4 linked regions of the Homo sapiens genome follow. The protein of the gene in region 2 interacts with the protein of the main gene of each other region in a pairwise test. Each region holds a gene or a part of one and is shown on either strand. Other genes may lie near its edges.

The links.
Region 1: the proteins of CCSER1 (region 2) and NDEL1 interact in binary tests that used the Homo sapiens proteins (3 or more experiments, as listed by UniProt).
Region 3: the proteins of CCSER1 (region 2) and LMO3 interact in binary tests that used the Homo sapiens proteins (3 or more experiments, as listed by UniProt).
Region 4: the proteins of CCSER1 (region 2) and FBXL17 interact in a two-hybrid assay, tested with the Homo sapiens proteins (one large-scale study listed by BioGRID).

The regions. Positions count from the first base shown.
Region 1 is NC_000017.11:8,455,686-8,460,242, reverse strand, and holds part of NDEL1 (nuclear distribution protein nudE-like 1), read right to left. Parts: intron 235-4,557; coding exon 83-234; intron 1-82. UniProt on the Homo sapiens protein: Required for organization of the cellular microtubule array and microtubule anchoring at the centrosome. May regulate microtubule organization at least in part by targeting the microtubule severing protein KATNA1 to the centrosome.
Region 2 is NC_000004.12:91,592,903-91,597,459, reverse strand, and holds part of CCSER1 (serine-rich coiled-coil domain-containing protein 1), read right to left. Parts: intron 1-4,557.
Region 3 is NC_000012.12:16,546,815-16,551,017, forward strand, and holds the end of LMO3 (LIM domain only protein 3), read right to left. Parts: 3' UTR 1,558-4,203; downstream 1-1,557.
Region 4 is NC_000005.10:108,374,542-108,379,098, forward strand, and holds part of FBXL17 (F-box/LRR-repeat protein 17), read right to left. Parts: intron 1-4,557. UniProt on the Homo sapiens protein: Substrate-recognition component of the SCF(FBXL17) E3 ubiquitin ligase complex, a key component of a quality control pathway required to ensure functional dimerization of BTB domain-containing proteins (dimerization quality control, DQC).

The sequences.
Region 1 (4,557 bases), on a different chromosome or scaffold from region 2:
TTTTCAAGGCTTCATTATGCTCACTTACTAACCTGTCACTTTACTACTCAAAAAATTATCACTTAAAACATTCAGGACTTACCCTTTGTCGAAGAAAGATGTATGCCCTGATCGAGAGAACTTTGTGCCATTGCCATTCAGCACCCCACAGTTAACATTCCCTGAAATATAGGATTTTCGTGATGCTTGGTCCTTTGCAAAATTCCTGCAAGCTGCTAATTTGGATTCTAAAGCCTACAAAAAAGAAGGAGGAATGATATGGTTGTCAAAACAGTAGCTGCACATAAAAATTTGCATTTCAAACCATTTCTATTTCAAGCCTCAAAACTTACTCATCTCAGTTGATAATGGTGGTTAGTTCAGCCATAATCAATCAACTTTCTAATAAAAAGGGGGAATACTTATGCTCCCTTTCTAATGACCTCAGAATATTTTGTTTCCTCCTCTTAGCGTTACTGAAGGAAATACATATAATCTTCCCCTTACAACTAAAAAAAGTGTGGTACAGGAGGTGGAACAGCAGATCCCAGGTCTCTTGACCCTATCCATTGCTCGTTTCTAAGCTGTAGACTGTTAGTTGGTGTTGGGGGGCAGGGTGTGTTTTGGGAGCAAGCACTATTAAAAAACCCAAAAATATCACTTGAGAATTTTTTTTACGGCAGCCAATTCTTTCTCTAGGTTCTTCATTTTTTCTACTGCATGAGAATGGATGAGAACATTTACAACACTTTACATGAAATTAAAAGCTATTTTATTTCTGACAGCACTCTGTAAAATGTTTAACTGATACCCTTTGTCTGTAATTAAATAATTCACCCGCAAATGACACTGGCCTTTTAGCATTTACCTCTAAATTGGGCACCCTTGTTTTGCACCTGTCACCACAACACCTGGCAAGCACAGGGCTCTACCAACGCAGATGACATGGAGAGATCAGGCGTTTCTCATGTATTTCCACACACTCACACTTCACCAGCTGTCTCTTTCCCATAAACACTTTGCCCAAATCAAACCCCTCCTTCTCCGAAAAGAAAAATACTATCCATGGCAAAATATATATATACACAATTCATGTCTATTATCCATGACAGTAAAGGACTGGGAATGCACAGCTAAATTAAATCCACAGGTAACATATACTTCACTTTGAGAATCCATTTGGACCTCCTCCCCCCACATTTCAATAACAGCTATTCAGAAACAGCAACAATGGTTGGGTGCAGTGGCTCATTCCTGTAATCCCAGCACTTTAGGAGGCCAAGGCAGGTGGATCACTTGAGGCCATGAGTTCGAGACCAGCCTGGCCAAGATGGTAAAACCCTGTCTCTACTAAAGAAAAAATAAAAAAATTAGCTGGGTGTGGTGGCATGCACCTGTAATCCCAGCTACGCAGGAGGCTAAGGCACAAGAATCACTGGAACCCAGGAAGCAGAGATTGCTGTGAGCCTTGATAGCACCACTGCACTACAGCCTGGGCGACAGAGTGAGACTCTGTCTCAAAAAAAAGAAACAGCAACAAAAACAGACAAACTTTTTTCTTCTCCTTCTTTCCTATGACAAAAGTACAATGACCTACTAAAATGACAACAGAAAAAAGGAAGAGAGGTAATGACCTTGTAAAACAAACTCTGAATAAGCATAATTCAGCAATAATTCAGCAGCTTATTAAAGCTACACACACACACACACACACAGTAGAAATTGAGAGCCATTCAATTCCTATATTCAAGACACGCATTCATTCAAATCCATATTGAGTATCTATCACACGGCAGGCACAACTTATGTCTGAGACATCAGTGAGACATCCAAGCACGAGCACCAGGTCTTTTGAGGGGGGAAAGGGTGGTCTAGAGATTAAGATTTGAAAGACATCCACACCCAGGGGTGGATGAAACTATGGCTGTGATTAAGATCAGAAAATCAAGGACAGAACTCTGAGTAAAACCAATATCGAAAGGGTGAGCAGATGAAGACCCAACAAGATGACTAAGAGGAATGGAAAGAAAGTTGGGAGCAGCCATGAAACAGCATCAGAGAAGGAGAGAAAAGAGGGCATTAAAAAAAAAAAACGGTCAGTGTTGAATGCTTCAAGTAAAATTAGGACAGAACGGCATCCACAGGATTTGACAGCACTGAGATCACCAGTGAGCAGTTTTAGCGGCATAAGCAGGGGACAGAGCCCAGGCTAAAGTGTCTGGGGCGTGTGCATGCAGTCAAAATGCTAACAATAAATGGGGACACGCTTTCAAGAAGCTTTAAAGTATGTAATATGTACCACATAAGTATTACATATATTTATATGGATAACATGTAATACAGAAATATCAAAGTATACCTGTATAACACATAACATATAATGTGTAATACATAAACATTATACATAAATATTAACGCATATATAGTAAAAGGCTGAAATACAGGAGAAATAAAGATTTAAGGGTTGGAAGAAATGAGATCCAAAGCACAGATGGACAAAATTAGCCACGGACAGGAATTTGCACTTTTACCACTGGGACAAAAAGGAGGAATGGCTACAAATAGAGGTAATAATAGGAGAGTAATAACAAAAGATGAGAAAAGAAATCAAAGAAGCTTAAAACAAATGGCCTTGATTTTCTCTGTGAAGGCATGCAAGAGTGGAGAAGGGCTTCCAGTTCAAGTCAGTGGACAAAGTCGTGTAAAGAGGCATAAATGAAATATTCATAAAAGCCAACAAGGGCTGGTGGACACCAGCAGACCCAAAGTGTTGATGACTTTTGGAGGTCGTTATTTTGATAACTCTTAGAAGACGGATTGTCAGCTGAATGTGTAAACCATACAAGGATGCCAAATTAAACTTTCATGCACCACTTCTGAATAAATTAAAGTACTAAAGCAAAACAAACAAGGAACAAAGACAGACAACAACGTGGGGTGAGGAACAGGCAGAACTAACCCAAGAGTAAAATGGAGAGAAATTCGAGGGCGACAACAATGCAGCAGCCCTCGAAGCCCATCAGGGCATCCCACAAAGAGTGTGAAGAAGAAGCTAGAAGATCCGAGAGCAAAGAAAGGTGTAGGTTTCTTCTACTCAAAAGAAAGAAGGGGAAACAGAAATGCTAGGAAAAGAAAGCAGCGTACAGTCAGCTACAATACGAAATATTTAAAAACCCAGTATGATTTTGAGTAAATTACAGTTAAAGAACAAAATTCTCAAAACACATTTGTTGAATGGCACAAATATAAAGACCCATCTGAAAGTCCAGCATCTCCTCTGTGATTACACAGTAAATAACACATATATGTGCATTGTTACAAATGCTGTTTGACTACTTTTCCATTTTTAGAACCAACCAACAGAGAGCTCACACAGCTAGTAGAGGGCTCAGAAAAGGAAAGCGGAGTGGGAGTGTGGTGGGGAAGAAAGGGAGAGAACAGCGAGTTAAGATATAGTCTAATACTGGCCAGACATGGTGGCTCATGCCTGTAATCCCAGCACTTTGGCAGGCCAAGGCAGGCAGATCACCTGAAGTCAGGCGTTCAAGACCAGCATGGCCAACATGGTGAAACCCCGTCTCTACTAAAAATACAAAAATTAGCCAGGTGTGGTGGCATGTGCCTGTAATCCCAGCTACTCAGGAGGCTGATGCAGGAGAATCGCTTGAACCTGGGAGGCAGAGGTTGCAGTGAGCTGAGATCGTGCCGCTGCACTCCAGCCTTGGCAACAAAGCGAGACTCCGTTCTCAAAAAAAAAAAAAAAAAAAAAAAGATATAACCTAATACATTCAGAAACAAAAGTTCAAGAATGTTAAAGTAATTTTTTTAAAAGAACAAAAAATAAAAATAAAAATATCTTTGCTTAAAGTTGAGTAAATCAAGATAAACAGAAAAATAAGCACATGATTTCAAGTTATAAAGACAAATACTCCAACATAGAGGATTTTAAAATGGTTATCTTGGGAGTGAAGAAAGATTACTCTATGTACTGTAGGAACGACCTGTGCACTTTACTTTGTATTTTAACCTTAAAAATGCAGGTTTAATCTGATGGTTAGAAAATAACCCCTATGATGAGCTGAAACAGGCAAACATAGGACCTGTGTCTTGGCCTCCCATATCTGCTTTAGATAAAGTATAATGCAATTTCTACATTTTTTAGAAAGTGTCACACACGAAAATAAGTGAAGGGGGTAGTAGATAGTGGGAAATGGCAATGGTTGATTACTGAAAGGAGAGGTAAAACTCACTAAGGGAAATAGTAATGGGAGCTAATGCTAGAAATGCTGACTTGATAGTGGCATAAATCCACATGGTTCTGCAACTGTTTCCAGTAATTCAGACTGCAGATCTCCTTTGTGGCCAGAGAGACCATGAAGTCAACAGTGACAGAGTAAGAGATGTGTGAGATCACAGATGAATAGAAAGGAAGTGAAAGCAAGAGATGGCTGATAAAAACAAACACACTAAAAAATGGGGTAATACTCTTGATGAGGTTAAAGAGTAGGTATGGTACACAGTAACACACTGATTAAGCAGAAAAACGGGTTTAATTTTTTTTTTTTTTTTTTTTTTGAG
Region 2 (4,557 bases):
TTAAAATCAGGTCCTTGCTATTTACAAAATATAATCTCAAGTCATCCATTTCTCTTCATTTCTACTCTTTCTTCCTGACACAATTGCCTGGCACATATTAACCATTTAATAAATATTTGCTGAATAAAGTTTGAGATAATACATAATATTTATTGGGTGTGTATTTCCAACACTCTGCTATTGCTCTCATATATTCACTCTTCACAAGAGTCTTTTGAGGTAGTTTCTTTTATTCCCGTTATACAGACTGGAAAATTGTAGCACAGAGTTTGATTTTATCCTAAGCTAGTGTAGGACAGGCCGTCTGCTTGATTATCTACCAGTTCCTTCTTCCTCGAGTATTTCCATAGGAATTTTTCAAAACTTCATCACATTTTTCTAAAATTAATTACGTGCAGAAAAACATTGTAATATGAGCTGATGCCTCAAAATGATTATTATTGAAATAAGTCTCCCTCCTTTTCTTTTCTACAAAACAAAGACCCACTAGGCGTCCTTAAACTCAGTGATTTCAGAGGGAAGGATTTTGCTACTCAGGCCTTTCCTTTTTATTGTCTTGATGTCTGTGATGTCATCTTTCCTTTTTATTGTCTTGATGTTTGTGATGTCATCTTTACTTATTTATATTTTTGTGATAAGCTACTTACAGCAGACCCCCCTCTGTGAATTCTAATATGCTGTTTTAACTTTTCCTTAGATTTGGAGTAGACATAGGTAGGTTGGTAATTTGGTGTAGAAAGGAAACATTGTAAGACTCACAAGAGATGCCTCAGACTTTTTAGGAGTAAAAGGAATAAACTATTTTGATTCCATTTTCGTCATTTGGGAACTTGTCTAGCTCACTTTCTTCTTCTTGGCTCTTTCCCAATACTCTAGGCTATGGACCTATTAGAAATGTGATCTTTTCTTTTTCCTCCATCCCTGTAAACTTATATGTTTATTTAATTGTTACCAACCAACCCCCAAATCAACCTTGTGCTCAATATCTGTGGCCAAATGTTAGACATATCATGGGTGCTGCTTATGAAATATTGTGGAAAAAATTGGGGATGAATGCAACATTAATAAGTCCATAATGATAACACCAGTGGTTACATTTCTTTTTCATTTCTATTTCAACAGATGCTGCCTAGGAAAGTAGAAATGGTAGGAGTAGACTTCATTTCCACTATTTTAATATTACCTTTGAGGGAATATTCATTGTTTTCTTTATGTGATCATTTTAATTCTCCTGGCATATTATATTAAATTGAATATACAGTTTTAAAAAGACATATTGAAAAGGATCAAATAATTCAGTCACACAGGCAGCCTCAGCACCCCTTCTCTGGTACAGTATCTGGTACTTAGAAGGCACATGTGGATCTACTATCAAAAGAAGCAAGATGGGGCTTCTTACTCTCAATTTTTAAAGGAAAATACACATTTAAATCAACCATTTATGTTTATTTAGCATAGTTTGTTTTTGACATGTTAGTTTTTTTGCCCTTGGTTTTTTTTTTTTTTTTTTTTTTTTAAGTTCTCTGTGATATTTACTATTATCTCCAAAGCTCATAGTGGACATAGGAGATTGCATTGTGCAGGGGTTAATCATATGGGTAGGGTCAGATATATATGAATTCATTTATTCTTGTGATAAATATTTATTGGCCACACTGAGGACAAGGTGCTGCATACATCATGTGAAATAGGGCTGTTCATATAAGACCCAAATGCTACCTTAAGTCAGCTTCAAGTCAGACACTTTCTAGTTTAGTGAACATGGCAAGTTACCTAAGCTTCCTAAGCTGCCAATTTCCTCATCTGAGAAATGAAGTTTTATATTTATATCCATATCTTCATAAAGGATTATTACAAATATTTAATGACCTCCTTGATTATAAAATGCCTAATTACCTGGAATGTAGTTACCTTAATCACAACAATAATCATCATCATCACAGTAACAATATAATGTAACTAACAGACCTTGAAACTACTTTGAGAGGTATTTATTTCATCTTTTAGAACCTAATCACTTGGAACACTTTTATCTCTATTTTAAAAAGAAAGTCACTTTCTCTAGAAAATTCAAGTAATTTTATATTTATTGTTGTAGTTTGGTTCCACAGAACACAGACTGTGAGACAGATGTTTGTGAAATGTATTGGGGAGTGTTCTTAGGCCAACAACTATAGAGAATGAAGAAAGCAGAGTCAGGCAGAGTGAGAAATTAAATTCTGTGCAATTACACTATCTCGACTGATCACATAGGGAGGTCTGAATTTGGGATGGTTCTTAATAGTGGTCTCCAATTCAGGCAAGTCGGTGGGAGTCTTATATCCCATCATCCAGTTATTGGACATTGGCAGGCCCTGGGAAGGGCTATAGTATTGGATGAGTAGGTTTTTTTGGTTTTGCTTTTTTTTTTTAAGCAGAGAAATTATTGGAGAGAAATTTACTTGAGAGCTATCAGTTGCCAACACTCTCAGCAACAGGAAAAATTAAGACTTCAGTCTTGAAAGTGTATTTGTTTGAGGCAGAGAAAGGGAAAAGTAGGAGGCATATCATACCATACACTACACTAATTACCCTATTGTGTCTTTAGTATATTATAGGACAATTTGAGCTAATAGAAAGAACACTGAACCTGAAGCCAAAAGACTCTAGTTGTGCTACCATTGAACTGTGTAACATGGAATGAATAAATTAATTATTCTGGGCTTCAGTTTCTAAGTCCACTCACTGAATGAAATGAATAAAATGTAAGACAATAGAATTTAGATCTTGAAGAAACTCTAACAATCATTCAGTTGCTTTCCAATTCTAAAATTCTAGGTTTATTTTATGCTACATGTTTTGGAATATGTTTAGAAGTACATAGGAAACATCCTCTTAACACAAAATATTAAAATACATTTTGGCATATGCATTTGGATCGGAAGGATGGGAATCTAAGATAGATAGATATAGATAGATCTGATTTGGGTATATATATATGTATATATATGTATATATGTGTGTATATATATGTATATATGTGTGTATATGTATATATGTATATATATGTGTATATATGTGTATATATGTATATATGTGTGTATATATATGTGTATATATATGTGTATATATATGTATATATATGTGTGTACATATATGTATATATACACATATACATATACATATATACACACATATATATATATATGGATTTGGTTGCCTTGGCCCAGAGGAAAATAATTTCCATATTATGATGTTAACCAATGTTTATTACCTCTGAAGAATTTGAGATCCCTGAAGGTAATTTTAATGCATGTGTCTAGCCACATCTTTCTCAAAATCAGAATTAAGCCTCCTGAAACTCATGTAATTATGTCAGATTCTGCGCAATTTAGTTGTCATGCAGCTAGCTTATTACCTATCCATAGAATTCCTAATGAGGATGAAAGGATGGAAAATCTAGTGATTAATCAGTCGACTGTGCACATTATAATAAGTTCATTGTTACCTTTTAATTGTCTTCCTCTCATTTCTTTACAATAGCATATAGCCTGTATTTCATCAAATGCAAGAAAATACTAATTTTAAAACATATTATTATTTAATACACCACTAAGAAATGAAAAACAAAACACCTGATGCTGATTTAAAACAAATAAACCACATTCACTTATTTCAGCCTGTGTGATCCATTAGTAAGTCACACCAGCCTCTCATTGCAATTTATTTTGTGTTCAGTTGCCTTGTTTGGCATTTGACAGACAGTCCTTTTGCATTTTTCTCAATGATTCAGTGTCATCCACACATAGGTATATTCCCTCTCTAGATTTTATAAAGCATTGGGTTTTTACTTAAGAAAAAAGCATGGGGGCTGGGCGCTGTGGCTCACGCCTGTAATCCCAGCACTTTGGGAGGCCGAGGTGGGCGGATCACGAGGTCAAGAGATCAAGACCATCCTGGCCAACATGGTGAAACCCTGTCTGTACTAAAAAAAAAAAAAAAAAAAAAAAAAAGCACGGGGTTGAAAACAAGACAGTTAAAAATATTTATTTCATTAATATTAAAATTATACCCTGTTTTTTTCCTTGGCTTTCTGTATACAAAATTATTTTTCTTATAACATCAAGTACAGTAAGCTGTTAGAAAACATTCTTTAGTAACAAATGTAGCACCAACATTGCATATAACTCAATTAAAGAAAGGCAAATATGAAGCTATGATACAATACACATTGCACGGGCAATTTAAACTGCATTACAACTGCAACCTGGTTAAAAGCATTGATTGTAAAATGAAACCTGATATTTAGGGATTCTATTATATTAAAAACTTGTCTCTTGGTGAAAAACAGAAATACAATAATCATGCCAATGTGCAAAGCCAAAATTTGTTAAGGCTGGATGATGTGATGATAGAATTTATGGGGGAGGGGAGAAATACTTCAATCACTGATTAATGAACGTTTAATAATGTTTTATTTTTTCTGAAGTTCTTTTCCTTGTTTTGTAAAAATTATTGGTAGTTGCCATGAATGTTATCAGGCAAAATTATTCTGTTATAATTGCTTGCATACATAAG
Region 3 (4,203 bases), on a different chromosome or scaffold from region 2:
ATTATCCACAAACCCACCCCAACCAAGCCTGCCAAAAGCAAAAAAATGTCATTTTGTGGTACCAAAATGCAAAACTGGCAATGATCATGCATATTTTAGTCTTCAGGAAAAGTTACTGAAATTAAATCGTGTGTATACTAAAGCGTTGTAAAATTGACTCAAGTGTTTTAGCAGCTATTCTTTGTACTGTTCAACACGAAAGTCTTACATCTTGATTATAAAAGTAAAAATATACCTTTCTGAATAATACTTTTCTAATAGCATGGCCTCAAAGGAAGCTCTAGTAAAAATGAATTTTCTTCATTTTTCTGGCCATTCATAAGGTTTTATAAACCCTAGGCATTCTGAAATCTTCGTTTATGATACTAATCACACAATTACCTACAGGCATGTGTTAAACTTGACACTGGTTTCAGCCAAATAATGGACCAGTTGCAAACAACGAATAAAGAGAGGCAGCTTCATTTATAACCGCTATTTCAACAGAGCTCTATTGTAATCATAGCAATCTGAGGGTGACTCATTAATTAATTGATGTTCTTTTTTATCATGTGCTATTGAGTTAATGAGTAATTTGTGTGCGATAATTCTCTGAACACATTGATTACTTGAGATATTTTCTGGGGCTTTCATATCAATAACATGCTGGAGAGGTAGAAGATGCTATTCGCTTTTGTGTGCTCATTATTAGCAGGTTGGAGATGAGCACAAACCAGTGCAAAGACATGTTAAAGTTATTTGATCTAGGCCAACCCTAAGTCTGCCCAACAGGAGGCTGAATGCTCAGGGAGAGGCCTGTCACATAGTAGGTGCGCAATAAATGTCAATTAAACTAATGACTATTAAATCTCTGCTTTCTATTACCTTAAATTACATTAAAACCACATTTAAAAAATATAACAATGTTTTTAAGAAAAAGTAATGATCAAAAAGGCTTTTGCTAAAATTGTATTTTGTGCTAATGGCCTATTACAATAAACATGCAGATTGTTTTTGCAACTTACTGAAGTGAACACTAAACATGTTTGGCCTACATAATTTCTACGAAACTGTTTAAGTGATGATTCAGAGAGTGGTTTGCCTAAAGTGATAGTTAAAAGGAAAACACTTTTGCATGGCATGTTTTACTACAGATATAATTTTCAGTGCCCTGTTTCAGTTAAGGTGCAACATCTCTTCTGTAAAAATGTAGAATTGAGTTTCCTGTTTTAATTCATTATACAGAATAGAAAATTTGAAATTTAATCTGACAACAGCAACAGAGTTGCTTTCAGAAAGATCACCTAAAATTTGTATAAATGTGCAAAATTACACCCAGCAATTGCTACCTTCATTTTTGAGAGTTTTATTTTCCCCATAAAAATAAATAGCGGTAAACGACCTAGCGCAGAGATCCTAAACATTACATTCAGAGAAACATTTGGGGTGCTTTGTCTATGCTTGTTATGACTTAGCTTTAGAAAGTAAATGTCCTTACACACCTTTTTTTTCTTTTCATGGACTTAACATATGCTTTCTAGAGATCATCTTAAATTTTGCCAATTAAGTGCAATCAAATAGTGTAACACCCCTTTTATTAAAAACATAAATCCAAATGTAAAAAAGTGAATGAAAGAATCCAGCAGATATTTATTAAGCAAGATGAAAGTGAAATTACAAACACAGGTCAACTTTTAAACTCAGCACTCTGTTGGAGTGGAGGTGCACGGTCCTTCATCATAGGCAGCCTATGCGAGATGCATCTTAGGAAGGGAGCTTTCGCTGCTCAGAAATCAAAGCTCCATCGGAGGTGTCCTACTGGAGGCATCAGACAACAAGCTAAATGACGTTAGGGCTACACAACACAAAGGGGAAAGTTGACAACAATTCAGGGGCTTTGAGTAGTCAAGACAATTAGCTTAGTACTTCAGGTCAATAAATGCTACAATTTATGGGCAATTAGCTGTAAAATGGCCTACAGCTGAAACACTATTCTTGTCTTATTTCACGATTTCATGGAGATTAAAGATAATCTAAACAGATTAAGGCCTTAATCTTTAATCCAGGTGAGTAATTTTGTTTGTAGTAAAAAGCATAAGAAATAATTCTCAGCATATTATGTAAAAGAAAAAGCAGTGAAAACCTTGTTTGGTCTTCCAGTGGCAAGGATAGTTGAACAACTTCAAGAAGCTGAGAGAAGTTTGTTCCCAATTTACAAGTATTTTGACATATAGATAAACAAAAGCAAAACCAGTTAAACCTTAAAAGATCATCTGAATAAGATCCTGACAATTATAATTTTACATCCATGTGAATTTCAAGCAATTGTTAATGGGGACCAGCAGGGCTGCATTAAGAAAACCACTTTTCACTGATCTCTCCCCCACATATTTTTAATTTGTCTTGCTTTGTTTATTTTGGTTATGCAAGTCCTTTCTCTTCATGAAACAAGTGTAAGGCTCTAAGGCTAAAATAATAGTTATTTTTGTGGGCCCCAAATAGCTACTTTTGAATTTCTTTCTTTAGTATATCTCAAATCTGGGGAACATGGAACTTGAAGACTCCTAACCATGAAGCATTTGGAAAAATACATATCATTCACTTTTCACAGAACCATTTTCTTAAAAATAAGAGGCAATATCCAGATTCACATGCATGTTCATAATAAAGCTTTGTTTTAAAACAAATCCACACCAGCATTATTTTCAGCTTAATATTTTGGCCCCAACCCAAGAATTCAGGTATAACATTTAATTTTCATCTGTAATGCATATATTGGAAGGACAAAATATATATGCAAATAACACTGGAAAATATTGTTTCCTATACAAGTGATCAAGAAAAAAACAAAGAAAAAGAAAACCCATAGCACTAAGTTTGCTGTAGTGAAAATATGGTTAACGGTGCCGTGCAAAATTAGATTTGTTGAAAAGTAGTTCTATTACAGGGAGCAAAAGCAAAGAAGCAAGTTTGTGGGCAACTCGGAAGAGGGGATCATATTCTCATTTCCTTAATTGTAATTTAAATAATCATTCTCCATAATTTCTCTTTCTAGAGCTTTCTTCTTTGTATGCTATCACGTAAGGTAGTACTATTTCACCTTAAAAAATGGAAAGACAAATTTCAGCCTAAGAATGATGTATTCTGAGTTGGCAATTACTTAAAACAATGAGAGAGTAAAACACATCAAACTTAAAGTGTTTACTTTTTGAACATTAAAATAAATGTCAGGTAAATACAGAAAAATATATAATCACTAGTTCTCAGCATTTTATCAATCCCTTTGTTTCTCTTCTTCTAGAAGATTCTATGAGCATTATGTTGCTCCGATCAAAAGTAACCTCACTACTCAAATACCATCATAGCTTCAATGTGCATTATAGTGATTTCAGTAGATTCACACTCAAATCTTTTCAGTGTCATACATTTATTAAGCCATAAAGTTATGAAACCCTCAGCTCTTGTGGAGAGATCTGGGCAGAATTTATACAAGAAGAAGTTTAATTTATCACTTAAAAATCATCTCATAATTGTGGTAACAGATTTTTAAAGTAACCCTTTGGAAAAAATTTTACGTGATACCCAAAGGCACTAGTTCACATAAGGGGTGTGGCTGAAAAAGCAAAACAAAGCCATTGTGTAAGTAAAGAGCACACAAAAAAAGGATATTAAAAGGAAACCTGTTAAGCTTTAAAGTTATTCTAAAAATGGCACTTTTCACGTTGGTATAAAATGAAAGTGCTTTAAGATGAAATTTTTATGTATTTTTTTAAAGCTGATTTTTAACCCCCTGAAAATAGGGGGTTATAACAAGAACACTGATAGACTCTAACTCATAGCGGCAATAAGTAGTGGATGTCACTAAAATGCTCTGTGTGTGTCTTTATTTTTTAGTATTTTTAATGTTGATAGACTTGCTTTATCTATCTGTGTATCATTAGTGAGATTTGCTTTTCAATTCTTTACTAGAAAGTTACAGCTCATTTAAAATAGCTGGTAAATACAGAAAGCATAAATATACAGTAAGTTTAAACACTGATTGTACTAAATGCAACAATACAAAGAAGCAAATGGAACACAAATGGTAACACAATAAAACTGTATTACATTTGTGCTTCAAATATTACAATACATTATATACAATAGTCCAAAATAAACATCTCATGCCAAGTGACACAAAAACGAATAGCAAGCAAAAAAATCCAGCCATATGTACATTACTTT
Region 4 (4,557 bases), on a different chromosome or scaffold from region 2:
CATGTGCACCTTTAATCCAAGGTACTAGAGAGGCTGAGGTGGGAGGATTGCTTGAGCCCAGAAGGCAGAAGTTGCAGTGAGCCATGATCACACCACTGCACTCCAGCCTGGGTGATACAGTGAGACTCTGTTTCAAAAAATGAAAGAAAAGAGAAGAGGAGAAGGGAGGTGAGGAAAGAGGAGGGGAAATCACTAACAGGAGGAAATCTGGAAATTTCACAAATACATGAAAATTTAACAATCAACAAGTAAGAAGAACTCATAAAGAAAACTAGAAAATAATTTGAAATTAATGAAAACAAACACATATAGCAAAATCTATGGGATACAGAAACAAGTAACTACATTTAAAAAGAAGAAAGATCTTGAATTGGCAACCTAAACTTCTACCTCAAGAAACTATAAAAAGAAAACTCAATACAAACTAAGCAGAAACAAGGGGGAAAAAATACAGCTAATACAAATGAAATATAGACTAGAAAAATAATAGATGATCAACAAAACCAAAAGTTTATTCTTTAAAATGATGAGGCCGAGCACAATGGTTGACACCTATAATCCCAGCACTTTGGGAAGCCAAAGTGGGAGGACTGCTTGAAGCCAGGAGTTTGAGACCAGCCTGGAAAACATAGCAAGACCCTGTCTCTACAAAAATTATTTAAGAAATTAACCAGGCATGCGCCAGCATGCCTGTGCACCCAGCTACTCAGGAGGCTGACAAGAGGGAAAGTCACTTGAGCCCAGGAGTTTAAGGCTGCACTTCCATTTACATAGCTATAAGCTATGATCACACCACTGCACTCAAGCCTGGGTGACAGAGACCCTGCACACACACACACACACACACACACACAAAATTGGCTAGACTAAGAATAAAGAGAGAAGACTCAAATTTTAAAATCATGTATAAAAATGGGAACATTAATATCAACCTTACAAAAAGTACACAATTATAAGAGAATACTATAATTGTATGCTACCAAATTGATGAAATAGATGACAAATTCCTAGAATATAAACTATAAAAACTGACTCAAAGGAAATAGAAAATCTGAGTAGATGTACAGCACGTAAAAAGATGGAATATGTAATAAAAAACAAAAAACTTACAACAAAGAAAAGACAAGGACCAGATGGCCTCACCAGTAATATGCTTCAATAAGAATGAACACCAATCTATCTTAAATTCTTCCAAAAATGAGAGGATGGGATACTACTTCCCAACTCATGCTATAAGGCCAGCATATCCTGATACCAAAGCCAGGCAAAGAAATCTCAAAAAACTACAGACCAATGTCCCTTATGAATACCGATGTGAAAATCTTCAATAAAATATAAGGAAACTAAATCCACAGTATAGTAGAAGGGTTATACACCATGACCAAGTAGGATTTATCCCAGGAATGCAAGGATGGTTCAACATATGAAAAAAACCCATGTAACACACCATATTAATAGAATAAAGGTAAAAAGCAAAAACAAAACACATGATCATCTCAACTGATTCAGGAAAAAGCACTGGACAAAATCTAATACCCTTTCTTGATTAAAACATTCAGAAATATAGGAATAAAAGAACACTTCCTCAACCTGAGAAAGAGCATCTACCAATAACCCCTAGTTATCATTATACTTAATGGTAAAAGTCTAAAAGTTTTTCCCCAAAATCAGAAACAAAACAAGGATTTCTGCATCATGACTTCTATGCAACATTGTACTGGAGATTCTGGCTAGGGCAATTAGACATGGAATATAAACAAAAGGCATCCAGATTGGGGAGCTGGAATTAAAACATCCTCTATTCACAGATGTCATGGTCTTATATAGAGAAAATCCCAGAGAATAAACACAAAAATTAATTTTAGAGCTAATAAGCAAATATTTTTATATACTAGCAATGAATCATCTGAAGATGAAATTAAGAAAGCACTTCCATTTATAATAGCATCAAAAAGAATAAAACTTTTTTTACAGCTCTCATTTCTTTATTGAGATTTCCAATTTGTTGGGTCAATGTCATCATATTCTCCTGTAATTATTTAAATAATGTTTCCTTTCTTTTACCATGTTTATAATAGCAGTTTGAAGTCTTTGCTAAGTCTAATATCTAGGCTCACTCACAGTCAGTTTCTATTAACTGCTTTCTTTTTCCCTCAGCATGGGTCACATTTTTCTGTCTCTTTACGTGTCTTAAAATTTGTTGTTAAAAACTGGACATTTTGGATAACATAGCCAGTGTATATTCTTTTTTTTTTTTTTTTTTTGAGACAGAGTCTCACTCTGTTGCCAGGCTGGAGTGCAGCGGTGTGATCTCGGCTCACTGCAACCTCCACCCACGGGTTCAAGCTGGGATTACAGGCGTGAGCCACCGCACCTGGCCACCAGTGTAGAATTTTATATTTCTGAGCCTTTTAACATGTCTGGCCCTAAACTGTGGAATCTGTGTCCTGGGCAGTGTGACTACATCTGTTCAGATTTTAATTCACATATATATGTTTTAGCCTGGCTTTCTAGAGAAGTCATTCTGTGTCTGAATATCTTAGTTTTCAGCTATGTACATGCCAAAGATATGCTCAAACAGCTTGAGCCTGCTCTTTAATCTGTATCTGGGTTAAGAAGGGCACATTCAAAGCTTAAAGAATTCTCATCTGCCTTGGCCCTTGCTCTCAGTTAGACAACCTCAGGTCTCCCCTACACATGTGCATAGTTTCACGTTATGCCAGGATATGTGAAGAGGTTATCCCTTTATGGTTCTCTCATTTCCAGGGTCTGCCTTTTAATTTATAGCTACTCTTCCACTCACCCCAACTGGCACTACAACCTTAAACTAGCAAATACATGGTTTTTCCTTGTTTTCCCCTACCAAGTTCAGTACATTTTATCGACAAAGGTTTTTACTCATTGCCCCAAATTGAATCAGCTGTCTGACAGCGAAGCTGCTGGTTTTCCAAACTACAATTCTTGCCAAAAGTGCTGGGACAGGAGGTCACAGTAGAAGCCCACGCGAGAATGCTGTAGACTTGCACTATTCTTACCTGAAGATCTAACAGTTTTCCTAAGAATAAATGTTTCTCAATGATTTTCTTTGCTTTTGGTTGATTTCCAGAGTTCAAATAGTTTTGGGCAATTCTGCCATTTTTATACTTGTGTGTGGAAAGGATTCACCAAACTCTTCATGCAGCCACAGGTGAAAGTACATTTCTTGCGGATATTTTTATGCTTGTCCTCCTCATTTTATAAATGAGAAAATAAAAACTTAGATGGCCTAGATCATTTTTTAAGGTTAAAGGACTATGTGGTCTTAAAGGGCTAATTTGTCAGTTAACAATCAACATGTAGGGCATGGTCACTGCAACCAAGTAGCATCTTGTTTGAAACCTGCCTGACTTTAGCTATTATCTTTTATATAAAAGTGATATGGCTGTTATAAACCACAAGTCATTGACTAAATCCAGATTTGTTTATCCAAGTGAAGAAATTTAAGATGTGGGTAATAAGCATAAAATAGGATATTTTGCCAAAGGCAAACAACTTGTTAAAGAAACTATTATATTAAAATGCATTTTTGACTGCTTTAAAGCAGGTAATATTAACCTATATAAAAGAGAAACATCCTTGTTGATATTGAGCCAAAAATTAGCCTATGATGCAACATATAGTTTAGTTTCTCTCCTCTGCCATAAAAAAAAAAAAATGGGCAAGTATGGTAGCTTTCCCAAAAAACATCCTTTAAATTCTTAAACATCCTCACATTTCTCTCCCAAATTCTACCTGCCTCGTTTTTGTTTTTTGTTTTTTTGTTTTGTTTTGTTTTGTTTTTACAGCTATAGTAACTTCCTAGCATAAAAGATGAAGCAAAAGCAATACAATTATAATAGCTATTGACTCCCTACCAGGAGAACAGGGCATAATTTCTAAGAATGTTTTCCAATAGTGATGATAGACTTGTGCCTCTCTACGCAACCCTTCTAATATTAGAAAAGAAAAATTGTCATAGCTCCATAAGTCTTCCCTTCTCCAAGTCAAACAACTCCAGTCCTTACCAGCAGAGCCAGAATCCTTTCACCACCACATGGCTCTACCGTGGCTCCAACAGCAACTCCAGTCAGAATATGGACATTCCTTAGAAATATCTCTTCGTGGTGTGGCGTATTCACCCTGAGTCTCAGCACAGACTCTAAACACCTGATGATACATTCGTTCGTAAGTATTTACTGAGCGCTACTATATGCCAGACACTGCACTTAAAGGAGGAGACAGAGCAATGAACAAGATTACGAATCCAGAGTCGCTGCACCCAAAAACTGGGGTTGGCAGACACTGAACAATCGCTAATTCAATTCATCCCAGACAGTACAGCTCACTTCGTGCTGAATACCACTAGGACCATCAGACTCAGACAGAGAATCTTTATTAGAATTTTCTAATACAAGGAATGGAAATCTACATAACATGTCCAAATACACACAATAGGGCAAGCCCATGGTAATTCCCATATGTCCTTTAGACAAAGTTTTCAACAATCCTCAGGAAAAAATATGAAAGAGAACAACGCGG